Linked DNA regions of Homo sapiens. The protein of the gene in region 1 purifies or fractionates together with the protein of each later gene. This does not show direct contact. Each region holds a gene or a part of one and is shown on either strand. Other genes may lie near its edges.

Region 1 (3,064 bases):
TACCTACTTCATGACATCTAATTTATAAATAAATCTTACTAGCCATATAATCAGAGACAAGGAACTTAAGCCTGTTTCTTCATGTGTAAATGGGGCTGATAACAGGATCAGGGTTGCTGTGAAGAATACATGTGCATATGTTCCCAGAAAACATAGTGCAGTTCTTGGGACACGATATGTACTCAATATATGTTAGCTATTATTATTCATATAATTGATAACAAAGTTGAATAGGGCAGGTAGAGGCAGATGCCTTTGTGACATCACTCAAAATCATTCTTCTAGGTTTAGACATATTCATTAATAATGGTTTCATGTCGCCCATTTCTATTTATTTTGCCCACAAAAACATTTTAGAGAACTTTGAAATGCCTTTCTCAAGTATAATATGATGTTTCTTAGATTTATTGCCTAGTACTCCTCAACCCTCAAAAAAAAAGAGAAAATTTTGTTTTCCTGATTTGTTCTTAGTGAGCTACCCAAACAACTTTTTGCCAAGACTTTTTGAATACTACCCTTATTTCTTTTTAAGACCTAAAAATACATAATAAATAAATAAATCTACCTACTAAGATTATACGAAGTGATTTATTGATACTGGTTAACATCCATTATATACAGGTAGAAACTTTCAAAATTGTACAAAGAACCATTAAGCATATTGATAAAGACAGTTTTACAGACAAAACAACTGGAAAATAGTTTTAACATACACAATATATAATTATGAAAAAAATGTAGAACACATATTGTTCTACCAGATAAATCCCAAGGTTATTAAAAGTCTGCTATGCAGACCTTAAGTTGAAAAATGTGTTCAATGGAGTTACATGGTTTTAGAAAATTAAGTATAATGTAAAAATTAAGCTTTTTTTTCTCATTGCAATTGGGAGAGGAACTGAGACAACTTTTTACCCCAAATCTATACAGTTTGAAAAATAATTTATATGTCTAGCATAAAGAAAATTGAGAATGTTTATGGTTCTGTAAACTTTGCCTTTTATGAAATGCAAACCACATCAGTTTTAAAAATTAGAAACTGTGCAATCAGAAACAGATTGTTCCCTTTATGGTACAATTGTACCTTAATTGGCTTTATACCTGAGCACCAAAGCTGAAGTTCTAAATGCCATCTCTTCCTGGAAAGTTATTCTGAAAATGAGCAAGAAATCAAAACTAGCCTATTATCATCTAGAAAATTAGGCACCAAGAAGGAGATTATCTCCTTGGAAATGCAACATCAATGACAGAGAAGTTTCAATTAATTAAGCAGCTGACAGATCTCCTTGTGAACACAACAAAGGAAATCCACATAAGAAGAGCCTCCGTAAAGTCCTTTGTCTTCTACCAGGAACTGTCGGAAAACCATTTCTGGTTGTTCTCGCTGCTTTACAATTGTGAGCTAGGAAAAAAAAAACAAAACAGTAACAGCCCCTGGTTATAAACATTATTTGAAAATGGGTCAATTTTGTCTATTTCAATTTTGGCAAACATTATTGAATGCCCATTATGTGTGAGGCTATGGAGGATGATGGGAAAGTGCCTGATATCTAGAGTGGAAAGAGGCATGGACCCCGAAACCCCAAAACCTAAGACATACAATTTTAAGTGGCAAAAATGAAACCTAAGCAGAGTGTTACGGGAAAGGCTTCACAGTGATAGTAACTGTCCCCTGAGCCTTAAAGGATAGGGGTAGGGCTAGAAAGTGTTCCATACTGGAATACATGTGCCATGTACCAGAGATACAATTATGGCTGGCATGTAAATTATCACAGGCTTCTTCTAAAAGGGACAAATTATCATCATAATGAGTTTGGGTTTCTGTAGGAAATGTGATCCAGTGAAGGTGCAGAAGAATGAAATGAGAGAGTTAAGTGGCAGCAGTATGTACAATACATTCGTGAGATGAGGGACACTAGATAGGAAGTGGTTTGAAGTGTCTGGGTGGGAGATGATCAGGTTCTGAATTAGAGCAGTGGAGGTGGAAAGGGGGTAGATTGGAGAGATGCTAGAGAGGTTAACACACAGGGAAAACAGGGAGAACTCCTGTCCTTTGCTCATCATGATTCTCTAGACCTGTGCTGTCCAGTACAACAGCCAGACACACATACTATTGAGCATTTAAAATGTGGCTCATCCAAATTGAGATGTGCTGTAAATATAAGATTTCTATATTTTCTATATAAGATTCTAGAAAAAAATAGATTTCTAGACTTAGTATGAAAAATAAAATATAAAAATATCTCAATAATTGATACAGATTACATATAGAAATTATATTTTAGATATACTGGGTTAAATTAATTATTTAAATGAATTTTTTCTTTTTAAATGCAGTCATCAGAAAACACAGAATTGCATATTCATTTGCATTACTGGAGAGTGCTGCTCTAAGAAGAAACCCACAGGGAAGAAGCCCAGAAGAGAGGCAGTTTTGTCATGAACACTTTGAACCCTTCTTTCTACACCTGTATTCCTACTTGAGGAAGTCAAGGTAGATGATCTGAATTGTCATAATTTCATATTTATTGCGCCACAAGTGGGGTTAACTGAGCCACACATGCACAACAATGCCTCTCCACCTGCCTCCTGTGTAATTAAGAGGAGCGAGGGTATTTCTCACTTCTTCCTCTCAGGAGGTAAACCCACCAGAAAGGCCTGCAATAGGGAAACACATGCAGTTAGCTGCTTCACCAGCTGCAGCAGGGAAGGTATGTGCAATTTTGGCTAGGAGGGCAGGGCCCTCCCTACTTTTGCATTCTATGCTTTTTAGTTATCAAGCAGAGAGTAACTCTGTCAACACCACTTGCTTTTTTCCTTTATAACGTTTCGGCCTGGATCCAAGTCTGTTAGGTTTTAAGTTGCCCCGACCTAGTAAAAATAATAATATATAAGAACAACTGCTGTTGCCACAACTCAGCTAATTCCATGTGGATACAGATATGTGTGATGCCTTGGCTTTTGGGTGTCAGCTCTAGGTACTGGGAGTTGGCACTGGAATAGCTGTGTGCATAGGCAGATTCCACTCCTACATGGGGAAGCAAAACTAACCCTTAATGAGATT
Region 2 (2,414 bases), on another chromosome or scaffold:
CGTGATCCGCCTGCCTCAGCCTCCCAAAGTGCTGGGATTACAGGCTTGAGCCACCGCACCCGGCCTAATCTCAGTTTTTGAAGTGCTCCACAAGTCATTAGGCACCAAAACATTTTCACCTGGGGAACACTGGCATTTCCCTGATTAGCTGTGAAGCAATCTAGTGGCTAAGTGTGAAATCCTGGGTGCGCAGGTGTTCTCACTCCCGCCGTGTTCTCAGTGCAGTGGTGGTCAGAGGCCCTTCCAAGGAGACATCACTCTGATCAGTTACAGATAGATGTTCTGGAAGATCTGCAGGTGAGTAGATCCAGCAGAGTTTCTTCCCACCAACTCTAGAAGAAAGGGCCTTATCAGAGTTGACCCTGAGCCTTTGGTAAGGTTTTGTGTGCATGCGATTCAGTTATCTTTGGCAATTCTTTTCTTGCTGCAGTGAGAGATTAATTGGTTGCTGATCAAACCGTTCATGCAGATGGGGGGACCTTTGGATTGTACGGCTTTCTCCTCTTGGCTGCTTTCTTTTCAGGAAGTTGGACTTTGGCCAGGTTTGGCTTTCCCAGAGCCGTTCCTTTCTCTGTCCTTTCCTTGGGTCCTCATGGTGTGCCCATTGGATCCTTGGCCTTGTGATCCTCTGGGAACTGGGGGCCAGTTCCACTTTTGCAGCCTTCTGTGCTGGAAGAGAAGCCCAGCGCCCTGGAAGGAGCCTCTTTAAGTCCCCCATGTCGCTTTCTCTCTCTGCTCTTTTAGTGTCTGAGATTGCCTTTCTTTGAATTTCCCAGTGTTTCTTTTCCTTGTCCCTTCCCTCACCAACCTGGAGTTATTTTGGTTGACTATGTCCTGGCTTTGGCTTCTCCTGGCAGGAAGTCATCAGGCATCCTCTCCAGGTGAGCCGAAATTCCACCCTCCCAGGTTGGACATCATCTTTTAAACCCAATGGTCTACTCCCCTCCTTCTTTATGAAACAGTGATTTCCCGTGAGTAACTCTGGTTCTGATTTTTTGTACCGGCGCTTAAATTCTTTCTGTAGACGTTGGAAAGCCACAAAGAACGTGACTGCAGTGAGCCTCCCACTGGAGCAGCCTTAACCAACACTTTGGCCAAAGCCCCCCCACCTCCCCTGTGTACTGTGTGTGTGTTTGGTGGATACAGTATTCCTTTTCAGTGTCCCTAAAGCTGTGATGGGGAGTCCCCACTTACCTAGAAAGCATTACCAGTCACCTACTCTGCATTCTCAGATGTAAACCTTGTGTAGTGTTCTTTTTGCAATGACCTATTTATTTAACCTATTTATATTTATTTAATTTTTACTCTGAAATGTATCCAGTTACAATTGTACTTGCTTAAAGCACATCAGATTTGTTTTGGACAACACCCTTGACCATTTTAAAACTGGAAAAGTGATACTGTATCCTTCCATGGGATGGATGCTTTACAGTAGTCTTATTATTAAAGGGTGATTAATTTGGTCGGGGTAAAATGTTAATTTTTAGGTGATTTTTAAGAATTCTGTGCCATTATGTCTTCTGTGTGGATGGTTAATTGTTTAATTAGTACGTGTTAATTGTGTGATACAGTCTTCTTTGTGGAACCCAAAATCCTCTTTTTAGCTTTATATTTTATAAACTGCCAGATTGTACAACTTTTATGTGCATTTTTAAAGCTTGAAGACATGAGGGTCATTATCTAAGTTAAACAGCCTATTTTTGTGCCTCCTGTACAGTTTTATAATTCTGCTGATGGCGGCATCTTATGTCGAGCCAACCACAATAAAGGTAGTTTTAGATTTTGGAGTCAGTCTCATTTTCTTAAAGATTCAAATACCATTCTCAGATAGGCTGTGCTCACTGTCCTTCTGGGTGGCCGGGGCTGGATTATGAGGCCTTTGCAGCTGGCTCGGCTGGTGGGGGATGGGTGTCCTCATGTCCACAGCAGGGTCCGGGGACTGGAACACCCTCCATGGTGGCTGTGTGTCAGAAAAGCTTCTTTGAAACCTTGCAGGAAGTTCCCAAAAGTACTGATTTGGGCTGAATTCCAGGAAGGTGGCCAGCTGGGACAGTCATGCCACGTGGTGAGAATTGGGCTTCAAAGCAGAGTTTGGGGCATGTGTACAGTAGGTAGGATACCAGACCAGGAAACCCAGGAGGGGAGAAATGCCATTGAGACCAACAAGGGCTGGGAGTGCCCCCAAAGAGTGGGACAGCGGCGTGTGGAATGAGCTCAGCTGACGTCTGCTTGGACTTTGCAATCCTCCCAACACACCTGCTCCTTCCCCTGCACCCTCTCTATGGAGAAATCAGGTGAGGCTCCACTTGCTCTTGCAGTGCCAGGCCGGGGGCAGCTTACAAGGGAGGACCCCAAGGGCCCACCTGCCCCAGGACAGCTTAGCGGGGGCTGCATCCAGGCTAGCTCCTGCCCTC
Region 3 (3,662 bases), about 34 Mb from region 1:
TTTAGAGTACATATTTGAACTTACTGATTTGGTTGTGAATTATTTGTTGATTGAGGGTTGCAGTTCTAAAGGTCTGATACTTTTTTTTTTAGAATGTTAACTTGAAGAGACCTATACAGCTCATCATAGTCTATCATGAGTATCCAGTTTCTTCTGCTCACAGAATAAGTTTTCCTCTGTCTAGCAACCTCACTTGGGGGAGCAGTCAACATAAGTTTATAGAGAATAGCGTATGCTAGGCTGGGCACGGTGCCTCACACCTGTAATCCCAACACTTTGGGAGGCTGTGGCGGGTGGATCACTTGATGTCAGGAGTTCAAAACCTGGCCAACATGGTGAAACCCCATCTCTCCTAAAAATAAAAAAATTAGCCGGGTGTGTGTTGCATGCCTGTAGTCCCAGCTACTTGGGAGGGGCTGAGGCAGGAGAATCGCTTGAACCCAGGAGGCGGAGGCTGCAGTAAGCCAAGATCCCACCACTTCACTCCAGCCTGGCCAACAGAGTGAGACTCCATCTCAAAAACAACATCAACAACAGACTAGCTTATGCTAAATTAGTTTCCTTTTAAGGTAATGACAAATTCGGAAGATATTTTATATCTAACACTGTAACAGTTACATTTATTTGCTTACCATGTGCATTAAGCTAAGTGCTTTACATTATTATCTCAAATGATAACCTTATAAAGTGGCTAAAGTCCTCATTTCTGTAGGTGAAGAAAATAAAGCTGAATGATTAACTGAAGCTAAAGTAGTCTGCTCAGAATTGCGCTGGTGGAGCCAGTGCATGGCTCCACCTACGTTGTCTGACTCTAGACTACTACTGTAGACAACTTCTACCATGCGTCCATTATGTCCTTTTTGAAATGAGTTGGAGATATATCACCTGACTTTCTATCAGGTGTTGAGAAAAGGTTGTTTCCTTTCTTAATCTTCAGTGGATGAACATCTGGTTGAATATCATACTGAGAAGTTTGACAAAAAAGTGAATTTGGTGGAGGCAGTTGGTAGGGGTTTCCTATGGGGATGGATATAAGTCTCTGGTGTGTGTGTGTGTGTGTGTTAGAACACACACACCTACTTGAAATAAAGAATTGTAAGTATTATAAATTCTTGAAATGAAGATTCAAATAATAAGCAGATGGTGTGTGTGTATATGAGGAGGGGAAAATGTGAAAATGAAGATTATAAGTAATAAACTGGGCATTGTAAGAGTCTGGAAGTATAAATAAATTTTAGAATAATACATTTGGGATGGAAAGAATAAATTCAGAATGGAAGAAGGAGTAAATTAAACAGGAAACTTTAATATGGTTATGGATGAAAAACTAAAATATTTGTACAGAATGGAAAGTGAGTTGTTCCACTTAATATGGAAGTTGATGACTTAGGATCATGACAATCTAAAAGTCAGATATGTAGCACTACTTCTGGATGTATGAAAAAGACTATTGGCCTGAAAATAATTTTGTTTTCCTTGATCTTTAGTAGCTTTTGGCAGTCATGGAAGCTGCCGAATGGCTCTTGCAGATTAACAGATATTCTTTATGAGACAAAAGTATTTATTTTCTTTTTCTTTTTCCTTTATTCCTATTCTCCTCTTTCTCCCATCTCTCATTCCATTCTCCTCCATTCCTTCTAAGCCTTTGTCTTAGGATGGGCATAGGCAGGTGTTGCTCAAACCTTTAGTTGTTCCTGAAAAAGGAATATAAAGTCTCTTTATGAAATACACTTTTTTCCCTTAATGAACATACTTATTTAAGTGAATGCTGTTTTTCAGAGTAGGCAATCTGCTTTGAAATCTTCTTCTAGTATGACTGTCGGTTCAGATTGAGACATACAAAAATGAAGTTCTTGCCTGGCTTCGTCACTTCGTGACCTCAGTCACCAGAATCTGAATAACTTTGGGTATTTGGAAAAAATCAGATCCTCTCTTGAAAGACAAAGATTTGGGGATCTGAAGGTAGTTGCAAAACAGGCAATTGCTCAAATCTTTTGTGAAAATATGGCAGTGTCTTTACCATGTTCTCACCTAAGATAAGAATTTATATTTTATTTTTGTATATCTGTGATAGCATTGGACTAGCAGCTCCTTGATGTTGAAGCTTGAGCCTCATTGGTCCCTGGGGAACAGTGACATACTGCCTTTGGAACAGGATCATAAAAGCAGCAGAGTTAGTGGTAAGCCCTAAATCTTCCAGAGGAGGGAGTCAGTTCGCCAACTCCAGTTTCTGCTAGCCTGAGATACTCATCATGGCACACATAAAAAATGATTATAATTGTATGGCAGACTAGAGCCAGGCCCTCCTTGGTTCCTTGGAAGCTGTGGAGTGGGGGAATGGGTCACAATTTCAGCACATCTGTAATCCATTCTTGGCACACTGTTTGGAAATCTTTGCCCTAGAGAAAAGGAATATGTTACTCTGTTTAATACCTTCTGTTTGTTTAGCATGTAATAATTTACAAAGCACTTTCACATACATCCTCATTTTATTTTTACTCCAGCCATACCAAATAGGTAGAGCAGATAACATCACCACATTAGAAATAAAGAAATTGAGATTTAGGTAAAGTGCTTTGTCCAGGGTCACATACCTAAAAAGGGATGGATCAGGAATTTATACCCTCAGTGGAAAGAGCCCCTGGGTTTAAGCCCGTGATCTGTAATCTCTAAAATGGCCAGGACCTTATCTGTTTTGTTTCAGTGCTATATATTGCCCAGGGTGGTCTTGAACTCCTGGGCTCAAGCGATCTTCCCGCCTTGGCCTCCCAAAGTGCTGGGATAACAGGCATGAACCACTGCATCCAGCATAAGTATTATAAATTCTTGAAATAAAGATTCAAGTAATAAGCAGAAAATGGAAAGGATGTTTTTTCTATTCCTCTAATCTCTCCACCCACCACACCTCTCTCCCAGTTAATTTGAAAAGTAGGTATTGGGGAATCAGATGAAATATATGAGAAAGCTGTAAACCTGCACTGTCTAATGCCAGGGATGCTAGCCACATGTAGCTATTTAAGTTAGTTAAAATTAAATACAATAAAAGATTCAGTTCCTCATTGTACCAGCCACATTTCAGTGTCAGTATCATATGTGGCTGGTGGCTACTTTATTGGACAGTGCAAATTTAGAACATTTCCAACAACATTGGCCAGCCCTGATAAAACTTTAAAATGCGACATGATATGATGTGATACATAATTCCTATATTGTTGAACCACGAGTTTAAAAATCTGCTACCCATGGTGCCTAGCAGTTTTTGTTTTAGCTGATGAAATGTTATTGCCATGTTCTCTCTCAGCTTTTTGTTTTAACTAAATCCAGATGGTCAAAGTCTAAGTCTAACATTTTTCTTGGATATTTGGGGATTATAGTTAGCTGCTTTTCTAGGATAAAGATGTCAGCTTCATTAAGGGCATGAGTGTTTTCTGTCTGCTTTGAGCTGTAGATCTGTATGTCTTGCTGTCTTGTTGACATCCTTTCTTGAATATCTTAAAGGTATCTCAAATCCAGTATGTCTAAAATGAAACTGATTTCCCCTTCCCTCCCTACAAAACTGCACAACGTTGGTTCTTTCTTTGTTCCTTTTTTCAGTGAATGACACAATTATCTTTTCATTGTAAAATCCAGAAAACTAGAAGTGATCCTTAATTCCCTCTCCC

Evidence for each region.
Region 2: the proteins of SEC24D (region 1) and ERN1 purify together in Homo sapiens (co-immunoprecipitation; one study listed by IntAct). This does not show direct contact.
Region 3: the proteins of SEC24D (region 1) and ARFIP1 fractionate together in Homo sapiens (co-fractionation; one large-scale study listed by BioGRID). This does not show direct contact.

The regions. Positions count from the first base shown.
Region 1 is NC_000004.12:118,722,254-118,725,317, forward strand, and holds the end of SEC24D (protein transport protein Sec24D), read right to left. Parts: intron 1,403-3,064; coding exon 1,262-1,402; 3' UTR 570-1,261; downstream 1-569. UniProt on the Homo sapiens protein: Component of the coat protein complex II (COPII) which promotes the formation of transport vesicles from the endoplasmic reticulum (ER).
Region 2 is NC_000017.11:64,038,515-64,040,928, reverse strand, and holds the end of ERN1 (serine/threonine-protein kinase/endoribonuclease IRE1 precursor), read left to right. Parts: 3' UTR 1-1,787; downstream 1,788-2,414. UniProt on the Homo sapiens protein: Serine/threonine-protein kinase and endoribonuclease that acts as a key sensor for the endoplasmic reticulum unfolded protein response (UPR).
Region 3 is NC_000004.12:152,782,793-152,786,454, forward strand, and holds part of ARFIP1 (arfaptin-1), read left to right. Parts: intron 1-3,662. UniProt on the Homo sapiens protein: Plays a role in controlling biogenesis of secretory granules at the trans-Golgi network. Mechanistically, binds ARF-GTP at the neck of a growing secretory granule precursor and forms a protective scaffold.